7 linked regions of the Homo sapiens genome follow. The protein of the gene in region 7 interacts with the protein of the main gene of each other region in a biochemical or structural test. Each region holds a gene or a part of one and is shown on either strand. Other genes may lie near its edges. The genes, in order: MAGI3, NHERF2, APBA1, PDZRN4, DLG3, GRIP2 and SCN5A.

Region 1 (3,500 bases), on a different chromosome or scaffold from region 7:
GAGGTTTACATACTGATTGACAGGTACCAATTGAAACATCTGGACAACATCTGCATGAGTGTGACCGAGGACACAGTTGCCATTGATGTCTACAATAACATCGCCTGGAAAAACATAATCATGTTAAAAATATTAAAATCAACAAATAAGTTAATTTTTTTGCTAGAGGGGCAAAAATAACTACAATTTAGCAACTAAATTTGAATTTTGGAAACCTCTATTAACTGCTGAAAAGATAGATTTCTAACACAGACCTTCTCCCTTTTCTAACTCCTCTCTAAAATGTATGTATAAATGTCTAAAATCCTACTTATTTCAGTAGCAAAGAATTTTGACTTCAAGCTCAAGTGAATCATTAAAAAAAAAACCCTGATAATTTATATTATCATTGTTAGTATACCCTCTGAGTCATATCTAAGTATCCATGCAAAGCTAGGCACATTGCAGTAGGTATTTAGTACAGAAGCAAATAACTCCACTGACTACTTGTACAAACTGTATTATATTTTTTGAATAAATTAATTTTATTTATATATCTGTATGTATGTATATATACATACACTGAAAAAGACGCTGTCCTTAACCAAACTCTAGACAGGTTCCTCTGAGCTCTTTTTTCAGTAGGCCTCATCCTTGGCATGTCCTCCAGAGCCCAGCTTTAGCAGGAATCCTGCTAAGTTGGTTTAGCCAGAATCACCCACTCTTGATATATGATCTAAGTCCTCATTCCCCACCATTCTCCAGGTGATTACCTGATCACCTCAGCCTGCATTCAGCAAGAATCCTGTCAAGTTCCTATAGCCCCTATAGCCAGAAATCCTCCTCCACCCCTGATATATATATAGATTTATATATATCTCATATATATTTATATATCATATATATAATATATATCTCATATATATTTATATATCATATATATAATATATATCTCATATATATTATATATATCATATATAATATATCATATATATTATATATATCATATATATTATATATCATATATATTATATATATCATATATAGTGTATATATATTATATATCATATATATATTTAATATTATATATATTTATATATATGATATATAAAATATATCATATATAAATATATATATATTTAAATTTTACTTTAAGTTCCAGGATGCAAGTGCAGAATATGTAGATTTGTTACATAGGTATAAGTGTGCCATGGTGGTTTGCTACACCTATCAACCCGTCATCTAGGTTTTAAGCCCCACATGCATTAGTTATTTGTCCTAATGCTCTCCCTCTCCTCGTCCCCCAACCCCCGACTGGCCCTGGTGTTTGTTGTTCACGGCCCTGTGTCCATGTGTTCTCATTGTTCAACTCCCACTTATAAGAACATGCAGCGTTTGGTTTTCCGTTTCTGTGTTAGTTTACTGAGGATGATGGCTTCCAGCTTCATCTATGTCCCTGCAAAGGACATGATCTCATTCCTTTTTATGGCTGCATAGTATTCCATAGTGTATATATACCACATTTTCCTTATGCAATCTATCATTGATGGGCATTTGGGTTGGTTCCTGTCTTTGCTATTGTAAATAGTGCTGCAATAAACATACGTGTGCATGTGTCTTTATAGTAGAATGATTTATATTCCTTTGGGTATATATCCAGTAATGGGATTGCTGGATCAAATGGTATTTCTGGTTCAAGATCCTTAAGGAATTGCTACACTGTCTTCCACATTAATTGAACTAATTTATACTCCCACCAATAGTGTAAAAGCGTTCCTGTTTCTCCACAGCCTTGCCAGCATCTATTGTTTCTTGATTTTTTAATAATCACCATTCTGACTGGCGTAAGATGATATCTCACTGTCATTTTGATTTGCATTTCTTTAATAATCAGCGATGTTGAGCTTTTTTTCATATGCTTGTTAGCCACATAATTGTCTTTTTTTGAGAAGTATCTGTTCATATCCTTTGTCCACTTTTTGACAGGGTCAGTCTATCTTTAAATACCACCTTATTTCTTGAGTTTAAGAAGCCACTGGCTGGGCGTGGTGGCTCAGGCCAGGCGCAGCGGCTCATGCCTGTAATCCCAGTACACCTGAGGTCAGGAATTCGACACCAGCCTGGCTAACATGGCGAAACCCCATCTCTACTAAAATACAAAAAAATTAGGCCAGACGCGGTGGCTCACGCCTGTAATCCCCGCACTTTGGGAGGCTGAGGCAGGTGGATCACCTGAGGTCAGGAGTTCAAGACCAGCCTGGCCAACATGATGAAACCCTGTCTCCACTAAAAATACAAAAAATTAGCTGGGTGTGGTGGTATGTGCTATAATCCCAGCTACTCAGGAGGCTGAGGCAGGAGAATTGCTTGAACCCAGGAGGCAGAGGTTGCAGTAAGCCGAGGTCGCAGCACTGCACTCCAGCCTGGGCAACAAGAGTAAAACTCCATCTCAAAAAAAGAAAAAAAATTAGCCAGGCATGGTGGCGTGCGCCTGTAATCCCAGGTACTTAGGAAGCTGAGGCAGGAGAATCACTTGAACGCAGGAGGCGGAGGTTGCAATGAGCCGAGATTCTGCCATCGCACTCCAGCCTGGATGACAAGAGTGAGATTTGGTCTCAAACAAACGAACAAACAAACAAAAAAACTAAACAGGTGGGAGCCGAGATGGCCGAATAGGAACAGCTCCGGTCTACAGTTCCCAGCGTGAGCGACGCAGAAGATGGGTGATTTCTGCATTTCCATCTGAGGTACCGGGTTCATCTCACTAGGGAGTGCCAGACAGTGGGTGCAGGATAGTGGGTGCAGCGCACCGTGTGCGAGCTGAAGCAGGGCGAGGCATTGCCTCACTCGGGAAGTGCAAGGGGTCAGGGAGTTCCCTTTCCTAGTCAAAGAAAGGGGTGACAGACGGCACCTGGAAAATTGGGTCACTCCCACCCGAATACTGCGCTTTTCTGATGGGCTTAAAAAACGGCGCACCAGGAGATTATATGCCGCACCTGGCTCGGAGGGTCCTACGCCCACGGAGTCTCACTGATTGCTAGCACAGCAGTCTGAGATCAAACTGCAAGGCGGCAGTGAGGCTGGGGGAGGGGCGCCCGCCATTGCCCAGGCTTGCTTAGGTAAACAAAGCAGCCGGGAAGCTCGAACTGGGTGGAGCCCACCACAGCTCAAGGAGGCCTGCCTGCCTCTGTAGGCTCCACCTCTGGGGGCGGGGCACAGACAAACAAAAAGACAGCAGTAACCTCTGCAGACTTAAATGTCCCTGTCTGACAGCTTTGAGGAGAGCAGTGGTTCTCCTAGCACGCAGCTGGAGATCTGAGAACAGGCAGACTGCCTCCTCAAGTGGGTCCCTGACCCCTGACCCCTGAGCAGCCTAACTGGGAGGCACCCCCCAGTAGGGGCAGACTGACACCTCACATGACCGGGTACTCCTCTGAGAAAAAACTTCCAGAGGAACGATCAGACAGCAGCATTCACGGTTCACGAAAATCCGCTGCTGTGCAGCTACCGCTGCTGGTACC
Region 2 (3,500 bases), on a different chromosome or scaffold from region 7:
GGGGCTCCCGGAGCCCGGGCAGGTGGCGTGGCACTCCCGGAGCGTGCCATGACAGCGGCACAGTGACAGCAAGTGGCAGGCGTCCGGCCGGGGTGGCCTGAACTCTCTGGCCGACCCAGGCTGCCACCCCACTTATCTACCTCCCTCTGCGGCCCTGGCTCCCCGGGGATGGGTGGGGACGTGGGGGCTGAGTCACTCTGGGGAGCAGGGTGATGACTGAGCCCGCTCCCCTGCGAAGGCTCCAGCCTGGCGCCCCCCACCCAGCTAGGCTTCCGTCCCAAGAAAGGAAGGAAGGAAGCTGCTGGAAGGCCCTGCCCTGCCCCAGGACCCAGGGCTGAGGGGACAGGGAGGAGTCCCGGCCCCAGAACACAGGACGGTCCTGTTGAGGCTCCAGAGGAGCAAGAGCCAGGGAAGCCCGGAAGCCCCCGCAGGCACCGCGCCCCAACCACACAGCCGCCTCCCGCAGAACTGTCACCCCTCACACCTGCTCTTAGCCCCCAAGGCCCTCCAGATGGGGGTGGAGACATGGGCTAGGGGCAGGGGGCAGAGGGCTCAGGGTCTGCCACCACCTCCAGGGCCTGGCACCGCTGGCCACCCCGTCTCTGTTTGGGGGCTGTCCCCTGTCGTCACTACTAGGATCAGCTGCACTGCAGCTGCGGCCACCCCCAGCCTGGTGTGGCCCAGGGCTGAGTCATCACTAACTAGGCCTTCACGGCCCCCAAAAGGAGGGGCCAACCACATCAGTGTCCTCCCCTGCCCACCTCCCCTATCCCCAGCCAGGACAGAGGACACTGAGAGCCACCCTTAGCTCCCAGGGGGCACCCAAAGTTGGGCCCTCTCCATCCTTCACCAAAGACAAACTACACACATCCCTTCCAGAGCTCTGCCTCTCTGCCACCAGTGCCCCCACTGGAGCCATCCCCGCAAGGTAAGCTTTGCCCTCCTGGGCTCCCTGACCATCTGAGGCATGCCCTGAACCCAGGCTGAGAAGGGCAGGATCTGAGCCTGCTCTGTGGAGGTCAGGTGAGGCCCACCTCTTCCTGCCCATGCTGGGAGCTCAGGTGAAGAAACCTCAGGTCCTGAGCCAGGCGCAGGGGCTCACACCTGTAATCCCAGCACTTTGGGAGGCTGAGGCAGGCGGATCACTTGAGCCCAAGAGTTTGAGACCAGCCTGGCCAACACGGTGAAACCCTGTCTCTACCAAAAACACAAAAATTAGCCAGGTGTGGTGGTACACGCCTGTAATCCCAGCTACTCAGCAGGCTGAGACATAAGAATTGCTTGAACCCAGGAGGCGGAGCTTGCAGTGAGCCGAGATCGCACCACAGCACTCCAGCCTGGGCGACAGAGTGAAACTCCGTCTCAAAAAAAAAAAAAAAGAAAGAAAGAAATGAAACCTCAGACCTCAGGGGCCGGGTACAGTGGCTCACACCTGTAATCCCAGAACTTTGGGAGGTCGAGGAGGGCAGATCACCTGAGATCAGGAGTTCGAGACCAGCTTGAGCAACATGGTGAAACCCCGTCTCTACTAAAAACACAAAAATTAGTCAGGTGTGGTGGTGCGCGCCTGTAATCCCAGCTACTGGGGAGGGTGAGGCAAGAGAATCGCTTGAACCCAGACAGCGGAGGTTGTAGTGAGCCAAGAAAGAAAAAGAAAAAGAAACCTCAGGTCTTGATGCCAGAAGAGAGAAGGGGAGACCCTGTTCCTTGGGTGCCCCCTGACCTCCTGGAGCCCCTGTCCCCAGCCAGACTCATGCACAAAGGGACCTGCCACTCAGGCCACCCTTTGTTCCTCTAAAAATACACCCAGAGGAAGCCCCTCCTAGGGCTTCCTGCAGCCCCCAGAGCCTGAAATAGCAGAGGGGGAAGGTCCCACCCAAGGCAAGGTGCCTGGGCCACTGCACCCTCCAGATAAAGTCCGAGGGCCGGATTTTTCCACAGGAAGGTGAACCATGCGTTTGTGTCCAAATCAATGGACAAACGCCTGAGGCAGAGGGGGAGCTTCCTCCTGGGGGAGGGAAGGTGGCTGGGAAAGAGGGAGGCCCCAACCCTCAGCCTGGAGACAGGGGCTTAGGACCAGCCAGCCCCCCTGCAAGGCCAGCCCCCCCACCAGCCCTGGGCTGGGCACCTTGGCCCTGAGCACCACTGTGGCCCGCCCTCAAGCCCCAGGAACAAAACGGGTCCCACAGGTCCCACGGGCAGGCCTGCGCCCAGGCTGGGCTCCCCACAGGGAATGCTGTCTCCCTGCCAAGCCGCTCCCCCCGGGCTCAGCTCCTAGGGGCAGCCAGCTTCAGCAGTGACGTCTGGGAAAGGGAGAAAGTGAATGTGTATATCCCCTGCACCCTCAGAACTCCAGATCCCACACCCCTGCCCCAAGCGCGGTTCTCACAGTGGGGTCTGGCCAACCCCTGGACTCATATCCCCTGAAGGGATTTCTTTCTTTTCCTTTTTTTGTTTTTTTTTGAGACAGTCTCACTCTGTCGCCTAGGCTGGAGTGCTATGGCGGGATCTCGGCTCACTGAAACCTCCGCCTGCCGGGTTCAAGCGACTCTCCTGCCTCAGCCTCCCAAGTAGCTGGGACTATAGGCGTGCCCCACCATGCCCAACTGATTTTTGTATTTTTAGTAGAGACGGGGGTTTCACCACATTAGTCAAGCTGGTCTCAAAATTCCTGACCTCAGGTGATCCACCCATCTCAGCCTCCCGAAGTGTTGGGATTACAGGCGTGAGCCACCGCACCCGGCCAGGGTTCTCTTTGAAAATGAAAAAAAAAAAAAAAAAAAGGTAGGAGAGAACATGGAGATAATGCCATCAGGGCCTCCAGGAAGATAAGACAGACAGCTTCAGGCTGTTCCTCCTGGTCCCCAAGGCCTGCCAGGCCGCCCCTCCCAGTCGGCCACCTAGCAGGAGGTGGAGCAGGCCGCCCCTGTACTTTTCTGGGTCTCCTGGCTGGGAGCAAGGGCAGGGGAAGGAGGAAGTACTACCCAGCAGGAGTCCAGGAGGAACAGCAGACAGGGTCCCAGGGCCCTCCCTTGTATCTAGGGGGAGGAGTGGGCTCACCCTGGAGCCTCCTGGACCCCCAACTCCACTCCCATGCTCCCAGCCCCACCTACGCCAGGCCTGGCAGAGTGGCCTCCTAGGCTTCCCCAACCACGGCGCTGCCTGTGGAGAAGGCCGGCCCTCTCCCAGGCCTTCCCAGCATGCAGGCGCCTTCAACAGAGACAAAGACAGAGCCACGGATGACACCCAGCACAGGCACAGAGCTGCGCACACGCAGACCTGGAATGCCTCTTCCCAGGGTTCCTCAGCCACGAGGCTGGGGGCTGGGGAGGCGGCAGCTTGTCAGAGTGACCCCTCGATAGGGCAAGTGGCTCTGGAGCATCCTGGAGAAGAGGAACAGGCCAGGCTGCCCTGACCCTACCCAGTTTAAAACACAGGCTGAGGGTAGAAACAGTGGCCCCCAGTGGCCAACAAGATGGTCCCTGGGGCAGAAAAGGAGC
Region 3 (3,500 bases), on a different chromosome or scaffold from region 7:
ACTTGTTTTTAGTCACTGGATGGGGAATCTGCTGAGCTTTTAAAAAAGGAATTTATGTGTACTTTGATAGCTAGCCTGCCATAAAGAACACAATCATACCTGAACATAAGATTAGGTTAAGCTTTCATATGACCTAATACTATGGAAACATTTCATCTGTAGAACAAATTCTAGCTCCTTTAGGAGAGAACTCTTCCAGGTACTAGCTCAGGGAAAAATGATTCTTATATTTTCAAGTTATTTGGAAGGGAAGTGGGCGTAGAAACTATTTTCACATCTGGGAAGAAATAATATTAGGTTAAAATTTAGAATTAAGTAATTTAACTAAACATCCAGAACTCTAGAGGCTAAGAGACAGCAGCTAGGAAGAGGGGCAGGAAGAGTGAAGGACAGGAAAGAATCGTGAGGAACCAGCTCAGCAAGGAGGTTGTGGCCCAGTGACTTGACACGGTCCCCACAACCCAAGAAAGCCACAGATCTAAGAACAAATCTATTCTTCTTACTCCACTTTCCCTTTTCCACACTAATGTAATTTCTTCTTTTGGAAACAAAATGTCTACTCAAAAATAAAGTTTCTCTCTGTGATTACTGCATCATTTGTCCATACCACCAAATATCCAAATATGCTAACAATTCAAAAAACGAAAAAACAACTTTTGACATGAAATTATTTCATACTATAAGAAAATAAACACTCTTCTGATAAATGTAATACAATACAGCAGTGTTTTCTAAACTGCATATTAGGGTTCACCAATGCAGAGATTACTTCAGTGGGTTGGCAAACATACAGAACAGAAGAGAATAGGATAGGAAGCATCAGGGTGGATTACACATAATAAAGGACAAGTATTGTTGAGTGAAACTTGTTTCAGTGATGTATGTGTGTGTGTATATGTGTTTACACACATTCATCTATGTTGCTAGCCTATCATCTAAATTGTGTTCTCACCAGGAATCATGGCCAAAAGTGTGTAAAAGCCACTGCAACAGAATGCAACCCACTTTAGTAAAGTCCAGTATAAAAGTCCAAATTCACTGAATAGCCAATGTAGGGGGTAATTATTCTTGTTAAGTGGAATTTCCTTAAATGACTCTAAGCTCGTCCTCTGCTTTTAAAATATGCTACAATTTACAAGAAAAAGGAATTTATACATACTTTGGCAATTATCCTTCTTTAAAATAAAGTGTGCCTGTTAATAAATGCAGAATTGATCTCGAGATACAAAATTTATCAATAGTCAGAAACATAACGATTACATTATTTGGAATGGTGGCCAATTAATTCCATTAGGAAATAAATCATTGCTGTATTTGCTGTATTTTTCATACAAATTGTATGCTAATTAATCCACATGGAACAGAAGAGGAGGCTGAAAAGGAAACTTAGTGTGTAGGGATTGGTTTTGCCACCATACCTTGACAACCTCCTGTGATCACTTTACATATACAAAAAGATGAGATTCTGTCCTCCAAAATGTGTATTTCAGAAAAGAGAAAGTTGCCTTATGTATAAATGCTTACAAAGTCTCCCATATTGTGGGGTATTCTCTTAATTACCTTCTTCTGAATGCCAAAAACCCTGTTACCTCCAAGATAACAGAAATTGAAAGCCATGTAATTCACTAATGCTGGATGTGACGGCAACTGATTTTAAAGAGAGAAACCATGAAAAAACATATTACCTGGTAAGACTGCAGATTTCATGAAAAGGAGTTGTGTGTTTCAGAGGTTACTTAAGAACTATTTGGAGAAGATAGCCGGAAATAAACTCAATCAACACAAGATAGGGATACTTCTGAAGGCTATGCAATTGAAAGAAGATAAATGACTGAATGAATACAGAGTAAAGGAGGCCATGATTTTAACACCAATTGAAGTAAATATTCCTGGGAAGGAGCTTTACAATTGCTTGTCTTGGATGTCTTTACACAAGACATACAGAAGTGCTGGGTTGCAGAGATCATAAATATACTCCTTTAGGAAGAAAGGATAAAACAAACGTTCTTACATTAAGTGAATGAGCACACAGGGTTTGGAATAAAGTTTGTGGTGGTAGCATCATACAGAAACTCAAGAAGTACTATATCTCAAAAAAGTTAGATAGAAATGAACATGACAAAAGTGGCCTAATCATGACAAAGACTCTAAAGTCAAAAAAGTATGTGAAGTATTTGAATAAATGATTTCATAAAATGTGAGAATGGAAGGATGTCATATTTCTAAATTAATAATTTTATATAATGTGACTTCAATTATATGAAAGTAAACTAATAAATTAAACATAAGTAGATACTTCACTCTTTGCCTATATTCCTAGAATATGCATATTCAAGTTGACATAAAGTCTTTTTATAAACGCTCTTGTTGGAAAACTGAGGGCCACCCTATAACAGAGCGTATCTTACACATGAGCATATATAGTACTCTGCACCTCAGATAACTGAGGGTGGCCAATAGTTGGCTTGTGAGTGAACAGAACTGCAGGCAGTTGTCACAATACATTAAAATCCCTAAATTAAAATAACTGCCATCAAACCAATTATTATCTGTTAAAAATTCTTTATGATACCTCTGTGCTGTGTTAAACAGGGGTCCCATGTCCACTTCTGAGTTCAGCTATAGCTGTATCGACAGTCTCCAAATACACTGACAGTTTCCCACTTCCACCTGGCTCTGCCTCTCTGCTTCTCTGCTCAAGAGCTTTCTTTGGTGTCTCTGGAGCTTGCTCAGGCTAATCTTAGCAGCCCTAAAGTACTGAAGATTTAATATCCCTAGGGAAATGGTGGATAAAGACCCCACTTTCTCCACTGCTTGGTGGACAATCCTAATGTGCAGTCTATATAATGCCAGCAGAGCCAAGCCTCAGCTGCCCACCGTGGTAACCTGCTCATTAACTCACCTCTTAATGGGCTTTCTTCCCTCTCCTGTGTCATTTTCTCCATTCTCTCACTTGTGCTTCTTGAGGTTGTCTCTCAGATAAACTATTCTGAACTCAAGTCCTCATCTCAGGGTCTGCATGCATAAACTGCTTTAGCATCCTATGGCAATTCTGTGTCCTGTTTGAAAAACAGCTACCTATCTGCAGAAATCAAGGTAAACGAGCTTTACCCTCATTCTTTACACCTGAGTTACTTAAATCTTTGGAAATTTCTCATCAATTCCTCTCCGTAAGTATTTGATAAACCCTTACTAATGCAGAGAGTCAGTCTGTGTTATAGAGTATACCCAGATGAACAAAACAAAGTTCTAGCCTCAAGGATCTTATACTTGAGAATGGAACATGAAACAAGGAAGAAGAAAAGAGAGCAATATTTAAAGAAGATTCAGGACACAGAAGAGATGTAAGTTCCAAGGAGCAGAACTACTTCCAGCTGACTAGTATTTCATCACTACCCAGACAGAATCACGCTTTGTTTTCTGATGTGATCTCGGCTCACTGCAACCTCTGCCTCCCAGGTTCAAGCAATTCTCCTGCCTCAGCCTCCCAAATAGCTGGG
Region 4 (2,963 bases), on a different chromosome or scaffold from region 7:
GACTGAATTGTGTTCCTCCAAAATTCATATGTTGAAACCCTAACCCCTAGTGTGTTTGACCTTGACTCTTTCAGTCTTCAGAACTATGAGAAATTGATGCCCAGCACAGTGGTTCACACCTGTAATCTCAGCACTTTGGAAGGCCTCAGTAGGAGGATTGCTTGAATCCAGGAGTTCAAGACTAGCCTGGCAACAAAGTGAGACCACCATTTAAAAAAAAAAAAACTATGAGAAATAAATTCCTGTTGTTTAAGTATGGCATTATGTTATGATAGCCAGAGCAGACTAACATACATTGCAGCATTATAAACAATCTCAGACACTTCACTGATATTCTCTCTCCATGGCATTCTTTAAATTTTTCTTGGTTTTACCTTAAAAGTGGGTGGCAGGCAACGGGAACATGAACTAATGGCTATTGAATGTTGAGTTAGCATCTGTTAGATGCTATACATATATTATCGAATTTAATCCTGGTAGGCATATGTGACACAGTGATCTATAGGGAATGTTTCAATACAACTTTATTGGAAACAAGTGATAGAAAATGTGCACATTTTATAATCCACAATTAGGCGTCTTCTAAATAGTATACACATATAACTACTTTATAACTGTCAACCACTGTGGACAAGGAAAATAAAACACTCCTTGATAATTTTTCTGAAGGATAATCAATAATTTATTTCTCTTTAATTGTCACAATTACCATAATTATCTAGCTACATGACCAATGTCACTACATATCACAGGAAGATTGTCCACCTACACTTTACTGAGACAAAGACAATGGCCATTTATGTGTTAAATGTACAATGGGATGTTAACACCATTTATGTGTTAAATGTACAATGGGATGTTAAAAGCAGTGGCTTTTATGTGTAAGACAAGATGTGGCACATGATTTATTACGAACAGGTTTGATTTAAAATGTATTATGCCAAGAAACAAGCATAGAAATATTTTGGCATTGAGTTATTATTAAAGTAGAAAATAAGTAAACTAGAGAAATAAATCCAGATTTTCACTTACATTAGATACATTGAAGTAGGAAATTAATTGGCTCCTCAGTATTTTTGTGCAAGTTTTTTTTGTTTTCTTTCCTTTTGTTTTTGATTTTTTATAAACGAGTAATATGAATATATCACAAGTAAAAGAAAGATCTCAGCCAAAAAGAAGGTACCAGTATATGAAAAACAAATGAAAAATTACCAGGTATTTTTTGCTTACAAAAAATTTAAACTATAAAGAGTCACAAAATATATATAAAAACGCCACATTGAACGAGGCAATCATACTCTACCGAAACTGGTAGCATCCTCCTAAAATCAGTCGCATGCATTCCATTCATTCGGTCATACAGTGGTCACCGACAAGAAGGCATTATGGACTCTCGTGCCATCTGGAGACTTGGCCCCATGGGTCATCAGTTCTTGGATTGTCATCCAGTTGTCCAAAATTTTCTTGTTTCTCTTTTTCATCATCTTTTTGTGACTCAGTTCAATGATATTGATCTCCTTCTTGCCCTCACTGCCGCTCTGAGGGCTCTCCTTGAGACACTCTAACCTGCTTCGCATCATGAACTCACGGCGACGGCGCTGCTCTTTGGCCCTAACCAGGTGCTGCTTTCTCTCCTCTTTGCTCCAGTAGCGCCCCATTTTCATCTCGCTCATGGTGTCATCGTCTGTGGTCATGCCACTCCGCTCTTCCTTGATCTTTAAGGCACGTTCCTTCAGGATTCGGTCTCGCACGGGTCTCTTTGTGATGTACCGTGTCCCGTCGCTCCTAATTTTCACCTTCCATTCCATCTTGGGCTCTGAACACTTCTGAGACTCCTTGCACATGCTCACCAAGCTGAGCTGACTCTGAGCATACTCGACTGCAGATTTCTGTTGAATTAACTGCATGTAGCTTTGATAATGCCGGGCGTGTGCTGGGATGTTTGCATATCTATATGAGGAGCTGTGGTAAGGAGAGAGGTAAGGGATGTGTTCGCTGACTGCCTTCTCTTGATCAGGAAGCTTGCTGCCTTCTAAAACCTTCTCCTTGCTTTCAGCGCTACAACCTTGCTCAGTGGTTTTGGCTTTGGTGGAGGTCGACTCTTTACTGCTCTGTCCGGAAGAGGACTGGGTGGCTGCCATTGTGCTTCTCAGGTTTTTCTTATTGGTGAGGTTGATCACCCTTGGAAGGGAACTGTCAGGGGAACGGTCTACAGTGAGCGGAGTACTTCTGCAGCTCTCAGCTGTGTTGTAAGCACTAGAACTGTCCTTGTCAGACTTTTCTGGATGCTCCATGATGTCATCTAGCTTTCCCCTTTGCATATCTATGCTGGTGTTATAATTCCGGAATCCTCCATCATGCAATGTCCAGATGTCTCCATACTGGTCTGTCACTTTCTGGAGCCTGTGAGCCTGCATGATATTCTGACACTCAAGCTCAATGTTTCTCAGTTCTTCATTAAGCAACTGTAGCTCATGCTCCACTCCCTCTTGCTCCCCTTGATTGCATTCAATTGTGCTGCTTGAGTAATACAGGTCATACTCTCCATGATTTCGAATCTTGCATTTGAGCTCCAAGAGCTGCCTGAATCTTTCACAGTCCTCATCTGGGTTGCCAATGCAGTCTGAGTCAATGTATTCACCAGATACGAGGCTCTCATTGTACTGAAGTTCAACACTTCCCAGAGTGTCTTGGCTCTGCCCCAGGTCTCTCTTGCTCTTCAAAGATGTGCTATTGGGGTCCTCGGCTGCATTCTCCTGCTCTGAGCTCTCATCATTTCGCAAGCTTTCATCTGTACGTCCTACTCCACTGTCCTTCTCATGGTTGTTGGATGAGGATGTTGCAGTGTCTGTTGTGCCTTCTTCTTCTTCTTGCTTTTTTGGCTAAGAAAATGATGTTGAAAGAACAAAGAAAATTAATGATTTTGGAAGACATTTGTTATTAAAAATCTTGTTTGAAAACCA
Region 5 (3,500 bases), on a different chromosome or scaffold from region 7:
CCTAAGAAATTCGATCTCTGAAGTAGACAGGCCCTACTTTTTGCTCCTATTACCCAGAAAAGGCCACATCTGTCCAGGGCCCCCTATTCCCTGTTGGGTAATGCTCTGGGGTGAGTTGTATGAAGGAGACAGATAGCTTCGTCAAGGCGCTGGGAGTATGCAGATGTGCTATGGCTTTGGTCAGCAGCACTGTTGGGCAGCTCCTGTGTTGGAAGGATAAGGATCCAAGTGGAACCTTGGCATAAGCATTGGCCTCCCCTTTGAGGCCATCTCCTGTACACTTACCCTCTCTGCAACTGCCCGCACTGACTGGATGCTGGTCCCATAGAGGTTATCATTAAATTGGCCCGCCTCGATGAACTTGTTGTCCTGAATATCTTTCTCCATTTGTTCTCGGGACACCACAAAGTGGTAGTCTTGTCCATCCACCTCATTATCACGTCGAGGCCGGGTAGTATCTGAAGGAAGAAAGGAAATGCTTTGTGGCCCAGGGGCAGTGATCCGCCCCAAACCAAAAAATACTGACTGGTCCATTCTCATCTGGGTGGGTCACTGGGCCACTCCATTTTTTTTTTCAAGTAAGTGGGAGAAAACAAGCAGTTGGGAAGCGGTTTGTCTGGCCTACTTCTCTTCCAATCTCCAGGTCTCACACAGGGGGCTATTTGCTTTAGCTTAAACTGGACTAGAAAGGTGGGGTTTCCTGAGCTAAAGCATGGCAGAGGGTGCCAAACTTGGTAGAGGAGACAGTGAACCTAACAAACTGTTAATGGAGTCACATCAACACCACTTTGGCTGGGCCTCCGTATTTGTCCAATCATTCTCAACCATCACCACTGAAACTTCCCCTCAAGAGTGAGCAGCCAAGCCTGATGGCTTAATCTCTCCAACCCCATCAGCTTTTGGGGAATATATTGCCACCTACTGTTTTCCAGCGTGTCAAATGTACCCTGTCCCCAAATAGCCCTAGAATCTGATCCCAGACCTTTTCCATAAAACATTAGAGCAACAATTCCCAGGGCACCAAGCCTCACTCCTCTGGGCCTTCCTGGACTCTTACGTGGCACACAGGATCCAAATTTATGTGGAAATTCGGAGATCAGGTCATCATTGACTCGGTCCTTCATTGGGCCCAGGATGATCACAGGCCTTGCATAGTGAACTAGAGAGGGAGAGCATCGAGACAGTGAACAGAGGCCCCCACCAGACAGCCTGTCCTACCCCTGAGTCTGGCTAGAACACAGAGGCTCTGGAGCAGAGACTCAGACAGGGTAAAGCATCCTCAGACATTGTCTGGCTTTTAAACAGAAAGACATCAAAGAGCCTTTAATTTGAGAATATCTAAGTTCAAGGCAAGTCTGAAACCGGAAGCTGCTCCCCTTCTAACAGAGTCAGAAAAAATCTCTGCACTGACACCAGTAACTGAGCAAGGTTTTTGCAGAGCAGCCACTGAAGGGAAGAACCTGGACCTCTCTTTTAGCAGTGGCTACATCTACTGAAATAGACTTTCCTTGTAAATTTGCCCCCTCCTTTGGAAGGTGTCCTGGCAGCAGGCAAAGGCACAGAGAGAAGTGCACACTGGATGCACCCCCTTCCCTATGACACTAGGAAGAAGCATAGAGAAGAAGGAGCCCAGGGGCTGGATGTGCCATGAGTCAAGCCTTCCTCCTCCTCCAGGTCCCTCCCTCTGCTGCCACAGCCACCCACTGTATTGAGCCCCACGACCAGGAGACCAGCACGAAGACAAGGCTCTCAGAGGAGGCTTACTTTCTTGCCGTGTCACTGGCTCATATGACAAAATAGCATCCTCTTGTCCTTCTGCAACAAAAAAGAGAGATAGGTTAGCACCATATGATCTGCCTCCTTCTGTACAGTACTCCCCGTACCCCTCCCCTGCCAGGACACAGCCTTATCAGGTGGTCCTTGCCACCACCTGTGATCCTTTCTGTTTTCTGCTGGTGAGAAAGCACATGAAACCCTTCACTGGCTCTGAGACAGGAGTCAGCAGTTCTCTTGTTCAGTGAAATATCACTGGGCAAAGGGCCAAGGCCCAGAAGCCATGAAGCCTCCACCCCAAACCACCCCAATTTGTGAGGAACTCTTCTTGTAGGTAACAAGTCAGCTGTGTGCAGTAGCCCCCTTGCTCTGGTAAGAATGACAGGGACACTTTGACTGGTTGAGATGCTTGCCCGAGTCCCCTTCATCAACATGCAGGGGAGTCAGGGCACACACCCAGGTCCCCAAGCAGCCTAACTTTGCCCTTTTAAAGGTCTACCAACCCACCTCCTGCATTGGAAGCAGCATCCAGAAAAGTGGCACATGGCTCTGCTAAGGTCCCCAGTGCCCTTTAAGAGCAATGCTGAACCTGCTGTCTCTTCCTGGTGGAGCCCCATGTCGAGCCTAGCAATGTTGAGGTTTTCCTAAAACAGTCGTCAAGCCACTCGGTGCTGGGTGCCTGGAGGTCCCAAAGTGGCTGATGGCAGTCCCAGGGAAAACAGTGATATTTGCATCAAGGCACACAATGCTTGCTAAAAGGCTTCTTCTGAGCCTAATATTCCTGGGCAGATTTTACAAGGCTTCTAGCCACCATAGCTCCTGAAAAACCAGTGCTCCCAAAGTTCATGAGGTTTGAATTACGGTTTCTCTGGTCTGGTCACAGGATCTCCCAAGGAGAACTTGGCAATTACCTCATCCTTTAACTGGCCCCAAAGGCAAAGAGGTCCTAATGACCTGGAAAGGCAGATTTAGGGCAGTGTCCTAGAGGAGCCATTTTTCTTTTGGTCTCTGAGCAAATCTATAAACCTGGCAGCACCTATGGCCCACAGTACCCATGGCAGGGATTTACTCTTTGGCAGTTTACCCTTCCCAGTGCCAGGGATGCTTTTAAGTCAGGTCCCGGCCAGCACTATAGGGCTTATACTCTCCTTTAATCCATGGGGTGAACCCCAACCCATAAGGAGAATGAACTGGCCACAGCATTTCTAGGATCTCAAAGTGTACATGGCTAAAAGAAGCACCAGCCTCTGAGCAGCAATGGCAGCTGTGCAACACTGGAATGAGGATGGCTGGGATACACAGTGGAGCTACACGACATGGAAGGAATGACACACACTTACTGGAACTGCTTTCGCTGTCACTGGTGTTGGATGTCACTCCCTCTGCAAGCCAACAAGAAAGAGACTCCAATTCAGAACACACCACTGAGAGGTCACATGCAGCACAAAACTCAAATGCTCCAGGAGCGAGACACTGAGCTGCCAACTGAGTCAGGCCACCAGAGGCCTGCCACATCCAGGCTACCAACTGGGAGGCACAGCTCCAATCCTGAGCCCCTGGCCCTCTCGTACTTGTCCCCAGAGCCCTCTTGGTCTGCCAAGTCCCTCCCTATGTACTACAAGCCATACTTCCTTCAGCAGCATCCTCTTCATCTGAATCAAATTGACCTGGATGGTTTCCAAATCGTATTTCAAAATGCATCTCCCAAGGCTAACAACAGGAAAGAA
Region 6 (3,500 bases), about 24 Mb from region 7:
AGGGCTAGAATGAGGGAGGGAACAGTCCTGTGCTCTCTGCTACTCAGAGCTTAGATCCTGGGCTCTTCTCAGTGACTCTCAGCAGATCCAGAGGAGGCAGCTGGGAAGTTAGAGAGGGCCTGGAGTTTCTCCTTTGAAGAGTCAGGGTCTCCCAGCTATGAGCAGGGAGCTGGGTGCTGGGCATTTCCAAGAGCAGAGGAAGTGGGTGGTCTGGGGGTCCAGAGGGCACAGTTGGGGCCAGGGGCAGGGTGGGGGGTGGCCACAGAGGGGCAGCTTTCAGCTCAGGGCAGGAAAGCACGTCCAGCAGCCCAAACCTTGGGCCTTGAGTGAAAGTCCCATCTTTGCTCCCAGCAGCTGGACAAGTGCTTTTCCCTCTCTGAGTCCCAGTCATCTCATCTGTAAAAAGGAGGGAGGACTTCTAATGCACAGACATGGGGGAGGCTGACGGAGATAAAGGACAAGGCACAGCCCAGGCCTATAAATCCTAGCCCTAAGGGCAGAGCTGGAGGGTGAGGAAGGAGTCTGTCCACCCCACCCTTTGCAAACCCCATCTTCTGGAAGAGAACGGAATCCCCCACATCTGATTGGGAGGACAGTTCTTGGGGAGAGTCCATCTCTATGGTCTCTGCCAGCTTCTGAAAAAGCCACACTGAATGAACCACAGTCCAGGGACTGGTCTGGGTGACATTAGGGCTTGAAACAGCGTCATTCATTCTCGTACCATTTATCGAGCATCTGCCACGTGCCAGGTTCGGTGCCGCGGCCTGCACGCCTCATTACTTCCTCATGACACCTCTCTGAGCTTAGTCTTACTGTCCTCCCACTTTACAGGGAAAGCTGAGGTAGCGTTGCAAGGCTACACATCTGCGTACAACCCCTTGGCTCTCATTAACTGAGCTTCTACTAAGTGCCAGGCACTGCTCTAAGCATGTTATATTATTAACTCATTCTAACCCTCCCCATTACCCGAGGAGGTGGCCACTCTCTTGGTCCCATTTTACAGATAATAGCACTGAGGCACAGATAGGCGAAGTGACTCCTCCAGGTCCCGCAGTTGGTCAGGGACAGAGCTGGGATTTGACCCAGGCAACTGGCTCCAGAGTGGGCCAAGCCCTGGGGAGGGGGGCTGTGGAGATGTGGCTCAAGGAGACAGAATCAACGGGCTGAGACAGTTGAGTCCTCACCTGTCCATCCGCGCAAGAGGAGAGCTGGCCTGGGGCGGTCTGGGAAGAGGTGTTGTATGGTGGCCAGTTTGGAGGATCAGATGGAGGAAGCAGGGTCTCCTAGGGGGTCGGGGCAGTGGGGGTTCCCTGGGAACTTGGAACAGGAGTGCAAAGAATTCACTGTGGATAAGGCTGGGAAGGGTTGCAGCCTGGGAAGGGGGAGCAGCCTCAGCCCGTGGTGCACTTCAGCCTTGGCCAACCCAGCAGGAAGCCCTGGAGCAAAGGCTGTCCTGGAGAGTCGTGGGGCAGAAATAGCCAGGCCCTAGTGCCCCGGTGCTCAGCCACTGGCCGAGGCTGCCTGGGCTGCAGAGCCACTGCATATCCCCAAAGTGCTGCAGCTGGACACCGTCTGCCAGCTGCACTCCTCACCAATTCTTTCTTGGAGAAACTTCATGGCAGCACTCATAGCCATAGACCTCTCCGGCTCCAGGGCAGGATGCCTGTGTTCAAATCCCTGCTCCACAACCTCCCAGCAGTGGGCCTCGGCCTGGCTTCCTTTCTCTCTCCTGTCCCTGCCTCTCAGGCTGCCATGTGGCAGCAGCTGCACTCTGAACACAGTGCCCGGCACATTGTAGGCGTCCGGGACATGTGAGCAGAATACTAAATGCCTTGCCTGGCTCAGGGGAAGCACGAGGATCTTCTGGTTCTTGCTTTCCTGGCTTCATAGTGCCCTCAGCCACTAACGCCTGCACCTCTCTTTCCTCTTTCTCCGCTGGCTACAGTGAAAGTGCAGAGGAGTGAGCAGCTGCACCGCTGGGACCCCTGCGTGCCCTCCTGCCACAGCCCCCGGCCCGGCCACTGCAGGATGCCCACCTGGGCCACACCTGCTGGCCAGGACCAAAGCCGATGTAATGTGCCTGCCCTGCTGTAGCTCAGCCAGTCTTGTAGCCTTTCCTAGGGAGGGGGCGATGCCTGTTGTCTAAGGGAAGGAAACTCAGACTCAGAGATTAGTGAGCTGGGTGTGGTGGTGCACGCCTGTGGTCCCAGCCACTCGGGAGGCTGAGGCGGGAGGATCGCTTCAGCCTGGGAGGTTGAGGCTGCAGTGAGTCAAGATCACACCGCCGCACTTCAGCCTGGGTGACAGAGCGAGACCTCAACTAAAAAAAAAAAAAAAAAAAAAAAAAAGAGAGAGAGATTAGGTGGCCTGCCTCATTGTCATCTAGCATGCCAGTGGCAAGATTGGCCCCGTCCCTAATAGCTGAGTTTCACAGGGTCTATGGAAACCCTGCAGTCTTTGAGACCCAGAGAGGAAAGGGACTTGCCTGAGGTCACACAATGAGTAACTGATGTGAAGGGGGAAGGCATCCCCATCTCTCCCTGTGGTTGGGTGGCTTCCCAGCACCCACTGTGTGGTGGGGTGGAGAGCCTCGGCTGGGGTTCACGGGGCTGTGCTCTCATCTCCCCAGCCTTGTCTTCAACTCCCTTTTCCTCGCCGACCTTGAACCACGCCTTTTCCTGCAACAACCCCAGCACCCTTCCCCGTGGATCCCAGCCCATGAGTCCTCGAACTACAATGGGGCGGAGGAGGCAGCGAAGAAGGGAACACAAGAGCTCGTGTAAGCTGTGGTCTCTTCCCTCCTCCTTGGGCTGCTTGTATGTCTGAGAGTGAGGCTTGCCAAAGGGTGTATGTCAGGGCGAGGGGAGGTATTTTGGGCAGAGCTCCAGGTGTATGCGTGGGAATGTTAAATAACATGAGTGGAACACCAGGCTGTCATGGATGGTTGGGCAGGTTGTGCACTGCTCAAGAGGACCACTGAGAGGTGCCAGTTACTTTGTACACTTTTATTCTTGTATTTTTATTATGAAAAATTCCTAGGATTTGGTGATAACGTCCTTGAGGAAAGGAAGTCTTTTCAGATGTGCATGAAGTTTTCACATTTTTTGCCATTCAGTCCTGATTCATTCATGGATAAAGCCTCAGTGCTGCGTTACTATATCCTTACCACCTCTCTGCCATTTGTTAATTTCCCCTAAGACAAAGACATGGCCTGAGACTCTAGCTGTCCAGAATGTAATAATTTCCAGTCTTACTTCTCTGCTTATTTATTGTTCAAAATTGCCCTTTTGAAATAAAGATATTTACATGTTAAGAAAAGTAAATCAATAGAAGACAAAAGTAGTGAATGATAAGGCAGGAGCCCTGTGGAAGTGGCAAAACACAATAATGCCTAAAATTTTGAAACCCTTCTTGGGAACAGTCTTTCCTTTGTTGATGCAGAAAGGGTTCTCAGCCTCCTGCCACATGAGCTGCAGAGGCCTCCAGGAAGGATAGAAGAT
Region 7 (3,500 bases):
AGAAGCCCCAGAAGCCCATCCCACGGCCCCTGGTGAGCCAGGCTCCTGGTTTTGTGGGAGTGGGGAGGATCTTCTGGGGTCCCTGGGAAGCTTTCGTGCCACATGGCCAGCCATCAGAGCCGCTTCACAGTCTTTCAGCCCAGCCTGAGGGGCACTATCAGATGTCTGATCATGAAGAGAGGTCCCAGCCTCGTAGAGATAGGGAGGAAGGTATGATAAGGATGTAGCATCCCAGGACACTCCCCACCCACAGGAACCCTCTGTACCTGAGCAAATCTCCTCCTTCCCCTCAAGGATGCAGGCTTTCCCCAGGAAAAGCAGTGCAGCCTTCACAGCCCCACCCCACCCCACTCACAGCCTCATCCTTGGAACCCCAGAACAGTCAGGGAGCCGGATTCCTGAGTCACCTGGTGGGGAGAGCCAAGAGCTCTGGAGAGCGGGGTCCTCTCCAAGACTGACTCCCTTGGCCCAATCAAGCCATTATCCAAAAAATTGTGTGTGTGTGTGTGTGTGTGTGTGTGTGTGTGTTATTTATAATCTTTTCCAAGTGGGAGAACAGAAGAAAAAAAAAAAAAAAAAAAATATATATATATATATATATATATATATATATATATATATATATATATAAAATCTTATTTCTTTCCCCAAATAATCTGGGCTGATTTACAATTAAAGACACATACAAATATGGTTAGTAGAATAAATAAAATAAATTCCATAAAAAAGTGGAGAAAATATATTAATCTAAGCACTGACATAATTACTAAGGTTGAAGTTTAAATTTGCCCTTGAGCCTTCAGACTGTGGGAACTAAAAGGGAAGCACAATGAACAGTGTGCTAAGGATGCTCAGGGCAGGAACAATCTCTCCCTGAAGATCCATCATGGAAGGCCTCATGGAAGATGGAGCTCTGGGGATGGGCCTTGAAGCCCAGGAAGCATTTCAGCAGGACAGCCAGTGGCTTTAGCCTCCAGGACTTTTTCCTCTGCACTCTCTGTGGCAGTGTTGCAGGGGCTTTGGGCTCACTAGAGGGTAGAGTGGGAGGGTGGGTGGTCTGGGATGAGAGGCAGCAACAGGCATTTGCCAGCCTCCCCAAGGGCCCTGCTGAGCACTTTCCATTTGCCTCTCCTTTCAGAACAAGTACCAGGGCTTCATATTCGACATTGTGACCAAGCAGGCCTTTGACGTCACCATCATGTTTCTGATCTGCTTGAATATGGTGACCATGATGGTGGAGACAGATGACCAAAGTCCTGAGAAAATCAACATCTTGGCCAAGATCAACCTGCTCTTTGTGGCCATCTTCACAGGCGAGTGTATTGTCAAGCTGGCTGCCCTGCGCCACTACTACTTCACCAACAGCTGGAATATCTTCGACTTCGTGGTTGTCATCCTCTCCATCGTGGGTGGGTATACAAGTCAGCTGGACGGAGAAGCCCTCCCCAGCCAGGCCTCTCCTCCAGCCCCTGGGTCTCTGCTGAATGCCATGTACAACCCTAGCTTCTTTCATAATTTTTTTCAGTGCATTTCTCACCCCCCTTCTCCCCTCACACATACACGCACACACACCTCTCCAGAGAGAACTTATCTGGAAGGCCCCACTTGGGCCAAGGAGACCAATCTGGCAGAGGACCCAGCACTTGCTCCTGGCCCCACCCTCCAGAGGAACTGGGAACACAGTTCTCTAACTGCTTAGAGAGCTTCAAGGATGAGTCTGGGAATGGGAGTGGGTGCTGTGGAGGCTAATTCTGCCTGCACTTAGGTTGAAGGAGAAGGAAGCTCAGGATGAGATGGGTCCCCAGGGATGGGGGATAGGTGGCCCTCCAGAGTAGAAATTATCCCTGAAGATGGAAAATTCTGGAGCTAACCGCCAAGGTGTATGCCAGACTCCTTCAGACATCACCTGCCTCATGCAATTCACCCAGTCAATTCAGCACCAAAGGAGGGAGATTGTGCAGCTAGGGAGAAGCAGAGACCCAATCCTGACCCATGTCTGTTTGACCTCGGAGCCCAGATCTTTTTTTTATATAACAGCTTTACTGAGACATAATTCACATACCATAAAATTCACGGTTAACTTTAAAGTCACTTTAAAGTATACAATTCAGTGTTTTTTAATATATGCACAGAGCTTTGCAACCATCACCACTATCTAATTTTAGAATATATTCCTTTCCCCAAAGGAAACTCTACCCATTTAATAGTCAATCCCCATTCATTTCCCCTCTCCCTCACCCCTGAAAACCACTTATCTAAAGTTTTGAGGGACCACCAAACTGTTTTTCAATATGGCTGCACCTTTTTACATTCTCGCTGTCAATGTATGAGGATTCCAATTATTTTGCCCTCACCAACACTTGTTATTGCCTGCATTCTTTTTATAGGAGCCCTCCTAGTGAGTATGAAGTGATATCTCACTGAGGTTTTGGTTTGCAAAAGCAAATGACTGATGACTAACGATGCAGGACATCTTTCCATGTGCATGTTGGTCATTTATATATCTTCCTTGGAGAAATCTCTATTCAGATCCTTAGCTCATTTTTAATTGGGTTATTTCTCTTTTTCTTGTTGAGTTGTAAGAGTTCTTTACATATTCTGGATCATAGTCTCTTATCAGATATATGATTTAAAAATATTTTCTCCTAGTCTGTGAGTTTTTTCATTTCCTAGTGGTGTCCATTAAAGCACAAAAGTTTTACATGTTAATGAAGTCCAGTTTACTTATATTTTTTCTTTTGTCACTTGTGCTCGGAGCCCAAACTCTTTAACTCTACCCCCAAGGGGCTCTGCCTTGCGGTGACTGTGACTTTCATCTTTCTGCCATATACAACCTCTGCCTCTGGTAAATGTAAAGGATAATGCAGGGGCTAAGGCAGGCACTGCTGTGGCTATAGTGACGGGAAGATGGAAGCACAAAGTAGGGTCAGGAATCTCTGGGGGGTCTCAAGCAGGATGAGGGTGAGAGCGTGCCTTATGGGACTGGAGAGGAGTTTTAGAGAATGCAGGATGTCAGCAGCAGGAATGGAACCATTGAGGGACAGTCTCAGAGGCTTTGGAAGGTTCAGCATGTACTTTGGGATCTCTCCTGGCCCGCTGTTTGGGCGGTACCAGAGAGGAGGAGTGGTTAAGAGATCAACTTGGAGCCCGAACGTCTGAGTCAAATCCCAGCTTCTCACTCACTAGGTGGCAACTTGGGTAAGTTACCTCACCTCTGTTTCCTCTTCTGGAAGATAAGGATGATGGCATCTGCTCACTTCCTAGGACAATGGGAAGGACTAAATGAAATGATGGCTATAAAGTGCTCGGCCCATTGCCCCAGTGATCGTAAACACTGGACCCATGTCAGTCAGTGACATTATTATATAAGGAGTCTGGAAAGGGCACTTGGGCCATATAAGACAAGTTTATTTCACTCTTTATTCCATGATTTATATCCATGCCCCTTAAAACTCCAAACCCAGGTAGTCACAGGAGACCCAGGGGCAGTGACGCCCTCA

The links.
Region 1: the proteins of SCN5A (region 7) and MAGI3 interact in a test that uses a peptide from one of them, tested with the Homo sapiens proteins (one large-scale study listed by IntAct).
Region 2: the proteins of SCN5A (region 7) and NHERF2 interact in a test that uses a peptide from one of them, tested with the Homo sapiens proteins (one large-scale study listed by IntAct).
Region 3: the proteins of SCN5A (region 7) and APBA1 interact in a test that uses a peptide from one of them, tested with the Homo sapiens proteins (one large-scale study listed by IntAct).
Region 4: the proteins of SCN5A (region 7) and PDZRN4 interact in a test that uses a peptide from one of them, tested with the Homo sapiens proteins (one large-scale study listed by IntAct).
Region 5: the proteins of SCN5A (region 7) and DLG3 interact in a test that uses a peptide from one of them, tested with the Homo sapiens proteins (one large-scale study listed by IntAct).
Region 6: the proteins of SCN5A (region 7) and GRIP2 interact in a test that uses a peptide from one of them, tested with the Homo sapiens proteins (one large-scale study listed by IntAct).

What each region holds. Positions count from the first base shown.
Region 1 is NC_000001.11:113,638,515-113,642,014, reverse strand, and holds part of MAGI3 (membrane-associated guanylate kinase, WW and PDZ domain-containing protein 3), read right to left. Parts: intron 105-3,500; coding exon 1-104.
Region 2 is NC_000016.10:2,029,902-2,033,401, reverse strand, and holds part of NHERF2 (Na(+)/H(+) exchange regulatory cofactor NHE-RF2), read right to left. Parts: intron 109-3,500; exon of another isoform or gene 51-108; coding exon of another isoform or gene 1-50.
Region 3 is NC_000009.12:69,662,372-69,665,871, forward strand, and holds part of APBA1 (amyloid-beta A4 precursor protein-binding family A member 1), read right to left. Parts: intron 1-3,500. UniProt on the Homo sapiens protein: Putative function in synaptic vesicle exocytosis by binding to Munc18-1, an essential component of the synaptic vesicle exocytotic machinery. May modulate processing of the amyloid-beta precursor protein (APP) and hence formation of APP-beta.
Region 4 is NC_000012.12:41,572,283-41,575,245, reverse strand, and holds the end of PDZRN4 (PDZ domain-containing RING finger protein 4), read right to left. Parts: intron 2,883-2,963; coding exon 1,356-2,882; 3' UTR 501-1,355; downstream 1-500.
Region 5 is NC_000023.11:70,496,835-70,500,334, reverse strand, and holds part of DLG3 (disks large homolog 3), read right to left. Parts: intron 3,156-3,500; coding exon of another isoform or gene 3,114-3,155; intron 1,816-3,113; coding exon 1,765-1,815; intron 1,160-1,764; coding exon 1,058-1,159; intron 459-1,057; coding exon 286-458; intron 1-285. UniProt on the Homo sapiens protein: Required for learning most likely through its role in synaptic plasticity following NMDA receptor signaling.
Region 6 is NC_000003.12:14,516,343-14,519,842, reverse strand, and holds part of GRIP2 (glutamate receptor-interacting protein 2), read left to right. Parts: intron 1-1,945; coding exon 1,946-2,071; intron 2,072-2,629; coding exon 2,630-2,779; intron 2,780-3,500.
Region 7 is NC_000003.12:38,552,188-38,555,687, reverse strand, and holds part of SCN5A (sodium channel protein type 5 subunit alpha), read left to right. Parts: coding exon 1-32; intron 33-1,138; coding exon 1,139-1,409; intron 1,410-3,500. UniProt on the Homo sapiens protein: Pore-forming subunit of Nav1.5, a voltage-gated sodium (Nav) channel that directly mediates the depolarizing phase of action potentials in excitable membranes.